2 separate regions of the Homo sapiens genome follow, and region 1 is linked to region 2. The links come from fine-mapping of genetic effects on gene expression. A gene starts in region 2. The other region holds a variant in brackets. All regions are shown on one strand. Distances are between the middles of the regions. Region 1 overlaps MEG8 (maternally expressed 8, small nucleolar RNA host gene). Region 2 holds the start of LINC00239 (long intergenic non-protein coding RNA 239).

Region 1 (4,400 bases), 810 kb after region 2:
GCTGTGGTGAGTTGTGACTGCGCCACTGCACTCCAGCCTGGGTGACAGAGTGAGACTCTGTCTCAAAAAAAAAAAAAAAAAAGGAAAATAATCCTTGTTTCAGCAGTATACACTTTAATGTTTAGCATGTGCTGTTCCCATTTTTTTCTCATTCATTTATTCACTTGTCATTGATTCATCACTGATTAGCCAATAATAATACAATCAGTACCCATGGATTAGAAAAACATAAAATTGAATATTCCTCTCATTGGATTATAGCAGTGCTGAGCAATAAAAAATATAATGCCACCTACACGAATACTTGTAAATTTTCTAGAAGCTACAATATTTAAAAAGTAAAAAGAAAAAGATGAAATCAACTGTAATTGTGTATTTTATTTAGCCCAATATCTAAAATACTATCATTTAATAAATATAAATAATTCTAGAAATATTTTACCTTTTTCATATTGAGGCTTCTAAACTCGGTGTGTATTTTTCCATGTAGATCACATGTCGATTAGACTAGTCACATTCCAAGTGCACAGTAGCTCCAGTGGCTAGCACTGATGATACTAGACTGTGCATGTCTATAATCTAATTTCCCACAGAGATAATACACTAGATCTCTTCCTATAACGCATCTCAGTATGACACACATGGATCAATGGATCAATCAACATTCTTCATACATAGCAATGCCACAGTTATCACTGGCCCATCCTTAGCCCTCTTTCTTTTAATTTGTCTATATTTCAAAGATGACACAATGAGCTACTATAAATCCACCATCTTCTTGCCCAATAGAATACTGATAATTACTTTCAATCTTCCTTTGTGATACCCTCTTAAGCAGTTAATGGCATAGGTGTATATCAATGGAGGACTGTTTAAATCAACAGTGATGTAAAATGTATATGAATATTAAACTGCCAGCAGCACAAATAAAATAGCCTGACTGTACTCTTAATAGAAGTGGTGTTGAATTGGATTAATCATGAACACTGATTCATATAACATTCTCATCATTGGTCCATGCATGTTCTGCAATATTTTAATATGTAGAGCTATTTATTTCTTTTAAATAATACAGTCAACATCCATGAGCAAATCATCCAAACCAAGAACAAGGACCCTGACTGTCCTGTCATCAGCCTCCATGCTCCTTGCCCACAGAGAAAGCAGCCCGGCCCTCATCATTACAGAATAGCTGATCACCTGCGGTGCACTCACTCTGTAGAAGAGAAAGCAGGTGTGAAAAGGTGTGAAAGAGACTAGATTTAAACTTTTTAAAGAAATATTAAAATTTTAATATACTGGATTGACCATAATCCTTGGCTTGTGCCACATTCTCAACATTGGTCCATGGCTGGCCCTCTTTCTCACCACTGACCCACAATTAACACTTCATTCTTAATTGACTTAATCAATTGATTATTTTAATTATTAACTTAATGAACACCATGGAGTGAATCACCTAAAATAAAAATGAGAATGATGACCATTACAAACCCCTCTCTATGTGTCCCCACTTATATGAGTGACAGGCCCAGGTAAGGAGAGCCCACATCATCTGCCCAGCAGGACTACGGAGTTGCCGTGGGGTGGCACTGCTCAGTGCCTCCTATTCTTTTTGTAAGTGGGAGTGGTTCTTGTGACCTTCGTGTCTATAGAATATTTACCATATAGAAGACAGATAACCTATTTATTTAAGGTCTTTGAATTTTAAAAATGTATTCACTTATTGATTTTTATAACATAATCAAGTAAAACACCACGAATCTACCATCAAAACCAAGAAAAACAGTAGTATATTATAGAGATAGATAGATATATAATAGATAGGTGGGTAGGTAGATAGATAGAAAGATAGATAGATAGATAGATAGATAGATA[A/GA]TAGATAGATAGATGAATAGATAGATAGATAGATAGATAGATAGATAGATAGATAGATAATCTTTTCATCCTTAACCATAACTGGAGAAACAGAAACCTTTACATAATGGACTTCATCTGTTGAGAAATGTATGGATATAATATTTGGTTCATGACACACTTTCATCACTGGTCCATGCTTAGGCTTTTATTTAACTTTTGTATTTATGTATTCATATTTAATATTCAAAAAACTGCCATGAACCAACCACCTAACACAACTGACTAATGTAGTAGCTTTAAAATTTGACTGCCCCACTGGATATCAGACTTGCATGGGCCAGTAGCCACATGTGACTATTTAAATTTAAATTAATAAAAATTAAGTAATATTAAAAATTCAGTTACTCATGAACGCCAGCCACATTTCAAGGACTCAATAATCACATGGACTAGTAGCTACCATACTGTACAGAACAGATTACAGAACATTTCCATCACTGCAGAAAGTTCTACTGCGGACGGGTATGGTGGCTTGCACCTGTAACCAGCTGTTTGGGAGCCAAGGCCGGTGAACTGCTTGAGCCTAGGAGTTCAAGACCAGCCTGGGCAACATGGAGAAACCCTGTCTCCACAAAAAATACAAAAATTAGCTGGGTATGGTGGTGCACACCTGTAGTCCTAGCTACTCAGGAGGCTGAGGTGGGAGGATCACCTGAGCACAGGGAGGTCTAGCCTGGGCAACAGAGTGAGACCTGTCTCAAGGCAAAAAAAAAAAAAAAGAAAGAAAGTTCCATTGGGCAATACTAGAAAATACTCTTAGGTTATATTCTAGAACTTTTTCTAATGAACCTAATTGGATTAATCATGATCTCTGCTTCATGAAACATCATCATTGGTTTATGCTGACACTCTTTTATTTGATTTGATCATTTCTAAAGAAGTTGCAATGAGCAATCATAAATCCAATCTGTTACTCCACTAATAGAACACTGACGTCATCTTTCATCTCTTTGTGTGCTCCTTGGTCAGAGTAAATAGCCCAGATTTCTATTTATGGGCAAACGTGTAAATAAACTATGTTCATGTACAAAATGAAATACAAAACAGCTGGTAAAGGAAGTGAAACAGGGTAGGTTATTTGTGTGGCAGTCAGAATTTAATTAACTATAATGCTTTCATTCTTGGACCATTCTCATCACCAGTCCATGTTTTGGCCTTTTGTTTATTTTACACACTTAGGTAATTATTTATTTATTTTTAGTACTAAAATCAACATCCAACATGCCACCATGCCAAAAAAAAGAATATTAACTGACTCTTTAACCAATGCATTTTTAAAGGGACCTTGGATGAACTGAATTGGAATAATCATAATTCTAGGATGATGAGTGTTGTACTTTCTTCTAACATGGTCTTGAGGTCTGTCTCAAGAGAGTGAATATAAATTCTAGCTCTGCCTGATGGGGATGCAGGAGAGGTGGTCATGGGTGTTTACAGCGTATCTTTTATGGGATACGTCTTTATCCCAGCAGACAGTCTAATGCCTAAGCATCCTATCCATTACCAGGTGTCCCTCTCATAGGAAACTCATTTACACTGGCAGTACCCCTGTGGTTCTTGTCTGACCTACATCTAGTCTATTCCTGCCAAGATAGCCATTCTCTAGGAGATCCCTGACCAGGAAAGAAGTTCAATTCAAGTGTGTTGGTCAGGTGAGACACAGAGGAAGCAACTCAACAAAACACATGAAATGAAACAACAGAAGCAGTTTATTACTTACAGATCCTGCATGCCTCACAGGGCCAGCGGGAAGGGGAAAGCCTGTATTGCAGGCTATGGCATTTCCCAAGCAGGTTTCCTGCAGAGAGTTCTCACTGGTGCATTTAGAGCAAGCCACTATATCTGTGTGGTCCACATAGGCTGTGGGGTCAGTGTATCTAGCTGTTTTTTAGGGAGGCAGTATCCTGGAGGTGGCTGTACAAGGCAGTTATCTGGATCTAACATATTAAGAACTTGGAGGAGGTGGATAACTGCAAACTGTGTCAAGGGTGACTAAGCCTGCTTCTGGAATGAGAAAGTTAAACTTAGGTTGAAAACGGATGCTGAAGCTACATAAAAAGAATTTACGACAATGAGATATGATCACCTTTGTCCCATGTTTGCCCTCTCTTGTTTTATTCATGTGTTTGTTCATTCATTCATTTACTCATTTATGAACACCCTTAAACAACTCTCCAGCCAAGATTTAACAACATCAACTATTAATTACATTTTCTTTAAGTACCTTATCTACCCAAGTAAGAGTCAACATTCTCATAAATACTGCATGACTATATAAACTATGATTTGTCCATTCTGTGCAACAAACAGCAACTATTAGAAAAATAAACACCCTGGATCATTTTTAATGACTTTTACTTGTGTAGAATTTAATTAATAAGCCTCACTTTACATGAAATATTATCCTCATTATCTATGCTTGGCCCTTTTAAGTTTTATTTATCGCTTTAAACAAAAATCATGAAAGAACAATCACGAAT
Region 2 (4,400 bases):
TGGAATAAAATGAAAATTGTGCTTGTAGGACGTGAGCCAAGCAGATACATGCAGTTGATTTGATACAGTTGTTTACACAATGCACACTTCTACATGCACATGTACCTTGCATATTAGATGCATAATTACATCTGCCCCACTTAATTTTCAGATGCTCTCCGAGATGGGTGGGGGGTGCAATGGCACAGAAATGCATTACGTCGTCAGAGTCAAGGCCCCACTGACAATGCGGGTGCTCATTAGTTAAGCAGATATTATTAGGCATGTTTACCTGAGAGGAGAGGAACATTCTGTGAAATAATAAATCTGCTGGTTTCTATTCTTCTCCCTTTGCAGACTGAGTTTTTATTATTTTGATCCCAGTACCCATTAGAAACACAGTGTCTAAATATTGAAATGCTTTGCTTCAAAAGCTGCTAAGATACAGTGGCAAAGGTAGCCTTGCAATGAGGTTTTATCTCCAGAGTCCCAAGTTTTTGAGACAAATCCAATGACGCAGATCTTGTGGTCAAGGATGATGCAATGGCGCTCCAGGAACAATATCAGGCTCTGTGACTTGGGTGCCTTCTGGGTGTGTGGCGTGGTCTCGGTCTGACAATCTCTAGAACAACCCTACGAGGTGGTAATTATTATTCTCATGCTGCAAGGGATATCTCCCACCTCCTAGGTGGACTCAGGTCTTGTGGGGCTTAATGCTTTTAAATTTGGGCTGCCTTTTGAAGGGAAAAGACTACAAAATTATGAATACAAAATGAGGTTAAGGTCTTGGGAGGGGCCCATGCAAGCTGGGGGCTCTGCAGGTAAGCTTGTTTAGCTTCCCAGCAAATCCACCTCTGAGCTTGCAAATTACAAAGCTGGAATTTGAACTCACATCTGCTGGATGCAAAGTCCGAGGTCTTCCTGTAGCATGACCGTCTTCCTGTGTGATGAGAAACATCAGGCTGCCGAGGCCAAACAGTGGGTGCGTCACTTTCCAATGAGGCAGGTGTGCGGGACAGGAAGTGGGAGGTTCTCCTTGCAGGGGAGCGGCTGCTGCCAACATCCCAGCTGGTACCTGTCCCTGAGAATGGTTTGGCAGGTGGGGGCCACTTGAAGTCTCTGCTCCTACACCCCGTCACCCCTCCCAGGCTGCTTTCAGAGGAGGGCAAAGGGTATTCATTCCAGCCTCCAATTTCTTCCTCCCACTCCTCGAAAGCATTTAAGTGAGGAAGGCAGGGAAAACGTAGATGATTCTGCTATTGACAGGAGGCCTTTTTTTCCTGCTGGAAGTAAAAGGAGACACTCTAGCTGGGCAGCCAGCCCCACCCTCCAGGGCTCCATCTGGCCTGGCTGAGGCTGGCCAGCCCCTGCTGTGCATGGAGGGGTGCTGGGAAGCCTACCTTGCTTCACACTTTCCTCTTCCACACCCGGCCTGTGACTCATGCCTGAAACGCCTCCGTTCAAGCAATTCTTCCTTTTATTGTGAAGCACTGCTCTCTTCCGGCTCCTCCCCTAAGTCACCACGCAGGGGAGATTTAAGGGAGAGGTTATTTCCCCACCGTGTTCAGGGACAACCCTGTGATCATGGTTTTGGTCACATAGCTTCCAAGTGAGTGTTGTGCAAACATTTGCTAGGATCTCTCGGGGAGCCTGTTAGAAAAGAAACTCCTGAGCCTGCTCCAGAGCTTCTGTTCAGCAGGCCTGAGGTGGGACCATACACCTGTCTTTTCAGCAAGCCCCCCCCCACCTCTGAGGATGCACCCCAAAGCTAGAGAATTCCTGCTCTGAGCCATCTCTGAAAGCACCAAGAGCCAGGTTTGGTTTTTTGTTGTTGTTGTTGTTGTTGTTGTTGTTTTGTTTTTTTTTTAATTACACCCAGACCTGGGTACCTGAGCAATCACTGTCTCTGGAATCAGTGCAAAGTTACCGGGAGCTGCAGAGGCCCAGACAGACTGGAAGAGGGGAGAGCTTGGCTCTAACCCATGCAGCCTCCCCATTGCCCAAGTCCACCCCCAGACCACCTCCCTGCATTCAACCACGAGCTTTGTAGAGGGCAGGCATGCCCCAGGGGCTCTCAGCATCACCCCCCTGCCCCTACCTGTGACCAGAGTCTCCCTGGACTCTCAGCTCTGTCTTCCCAACTCGAAGAGCCTGCCAGGCCCCACCTGGGTACCCTTGTCCATACTGTAGCTTGGAAACCCTCTCAAGAAAGGAAGCTGGGTTAATTGCAGGCTCACTTTATTTTCCACATTCTCAGAAATCATTGTGCCTAGTTACCTGATATCCAGTGTATTAGTCTGTCCTCATGCTGCTGATAAAGACATACCCGAGACTGGGTAAATTATAAGGAAAAACAGGTTTAATAGGTTTAATGGACTCACAGTTCCACGGGCCTGGGGAAGCCTTACAATCATGGCAGAAGGTGAAAGGCACATCTTATATGGTGGTGGACAAGAGAGAATGGAACCAAGTGGAGAGGGAAACCCCTTATAAAACCATCAGATCTCGTGAGACTTGTTCACTACCACGAGAACAGTATGGGGGAAACCACCCCCATGATTCAAATATCTCCCACCAGGTCCCTCCCACAACACATGGGAATTATGGGAGCTACAATTCAAGATGAGATTTGGGTGGGGACATAGCAAAACCATATCATCCAGTGTCTTGAGAACTCTTGTTTTATATATTTGGTCCAATTTATTTTGACTTTTTCAGGCAGGAGAGGAAATCCAGTCTCTACATTCCGTCTTGTTTGGGAGTGAAAGTGTTCATTTTCTTTTAAAACAGACAATATCCTTCCAAATCTATAGTTAGTTCACTCATCCATCACTCATCCATAACCACTGTTAATATTTTGGTCTACATTCTAAGATATTTTTTTTCTGTGCATATGCGTGCACGTAGCAGGGTCACAAAATCACTCACAATACATCAGATGTGCAAAGAAAATAGAGTGTCTTCATTTTCCTACTTAATTAATCTGATCTTTCTTGAAAGGTACTCTCTGCTGGGTAATACAATGGGGAGAAACATCCATTCTAGTAACCTTGGTCTAATACAAACATTTAACCAGTTCTTTGAGCAGCTCAGCATTCTGAGGCTGAAGTGTTTGGCCAGTGGGGCTTCTGATGGCTGCCACTGTCTACTCCTCTACTCCAGATTGTGTCTGGGCACACAGCTGGTGGGCTGCAGGATTTGGGGGTTCTTTTGGTAGCCAGGAGGAAGGGGTCCTCTGGTCCACACATGTTCTCCAAGTTTCCCTGAGTTTGGCTGCAGAGCAGTTGGCCTGGGCTACTCCATGGAACGGAGTGGTGGCTGTCGAGGAGCAATGAGTCATGGGAGATCAGGTCACGTAGGGTCTTGTGGGCACTGCGAAGACTCTGGCTTTATTTTTCTTTTTTGAGACAAGGTCTCGCTCTGTCACCCATGCTGGAGTGCAGTGGCATGATCTTGGCTCACTACAGCCTCGACCTCCCAAGTTCACGCAATCCTCCTGCCTCAGCACCTCAAGTAGTTGGGATTACAGCCATGCGCCCCTACACATGGCTAATTTTTGTACTTTTTGTAGAGATGGGGTTTCACCATGTTGCCCAGGCTGGTCTTGAACTCCTGAGCTTAAGTGATCTGCCCACCTTGGCCTCCCAAAGTGTTGGGATTACAGGCATGAGCCACCGCACCTGGCCAAGACTTTGGATTTTATCCCAAATGAAATAGGGAAGCCACTGGAGGGCTTCAATGTGGTGGTAGGAGGCAAATACTGATTGAAAAGGTTCAAGAGAAAATGGGAGGAGAAAAATTGAAGATAATAAGAATAGATACTTCCAGCTGGGTGCAGGGGCTCACACCTATAAGCTCAGCACTTTGGGAAGTTGAGGTAGGGATTGCTTGAGGCCAAGAGTTCCAGAGCAACCTGGGAAACATAGCAAGACTCTGTCTCTACAAATTTTTTTTTTAATTTTTTTTTTTTTTGACAGAGTCTCGCTCTGTAGCCCAGGGTGGAGTGCAGTGGTGCAACCTCAGCTCACTGCAACCTCCACCTCCCAGGTTCAAGCAATTCTCTTCATTCAGCCTCCTGAGTAGCTGGGATTACAGGTGCCCGCCAACACACCTGGCTAATTTTTTGTATTTTACTAGAGACAAGGTTTCACCATGTTGGCCAGGCTGGTCTCCAACTCCTGACCTCAGGTGATCCGCCCACCTCGGCCTCCCAAAGTGCTGCAATTACAGGGATGAGACATTGCGCCCGGCCTACAAAAAATTTTTACAAATTAGCGGGGAGTGGTGGTGCACACCTGTAGTCCCAGCTACTAAGAGGCTGAGGTGCGAGAATTGCTTGGGCTCAGGAGATCGAGGCTGCAGTGAGCTGTGAGTATGCCACTGCACTCTGGCCCAGATGGATACTTCCAAAGAGTCTTGCT

What was found. PIP is the estimated chance that this variant, and not a neighbour inherited with it, causes the effect.
Region 1: its variant is fine-mapped to the expression of LINC00239 in Th1 cells (Schmiedel 2018, PIP 0.95).

What each region holds. Positions count from the first base shown.
Region 1 is chr14:100,914,196-100,918,595 of GRCh38, reverse strand. The region is part of intron 9 of MEG8 (maternally expressed 8, small nucleolar RNA host gene); the gene reads right to left. Among named protein-coding and RNA genes, the nearest start is that of MIR370, 5.3 kb to the right of the region's middle. The variant A/GA (reference allele first, on the strand shown) is at 1,879.
Region 2 is chr14:101,728,448-101,732,847 of GRCh38, reverse strand. LINC00239 (long intergenic non-protein coding RNA 239) reads right to left here and starts at 2,411. Exons shown (of 4, transcript NR_026774.1): 1 at 2,361-2,411; 2 at 1,380-1,491; 3 at 872-1,060; 4 at 323-612. It overlaps LINC02320 (long intergenic non-protein coding RNA 2320), which reads left to right and starts at 1,542. Exons shown (of 6, transcript NR_184269.1): 1 at 1,542-1,794. RefSeq lists enhancers at 845-944, 1,675-1,734, 777-1,976.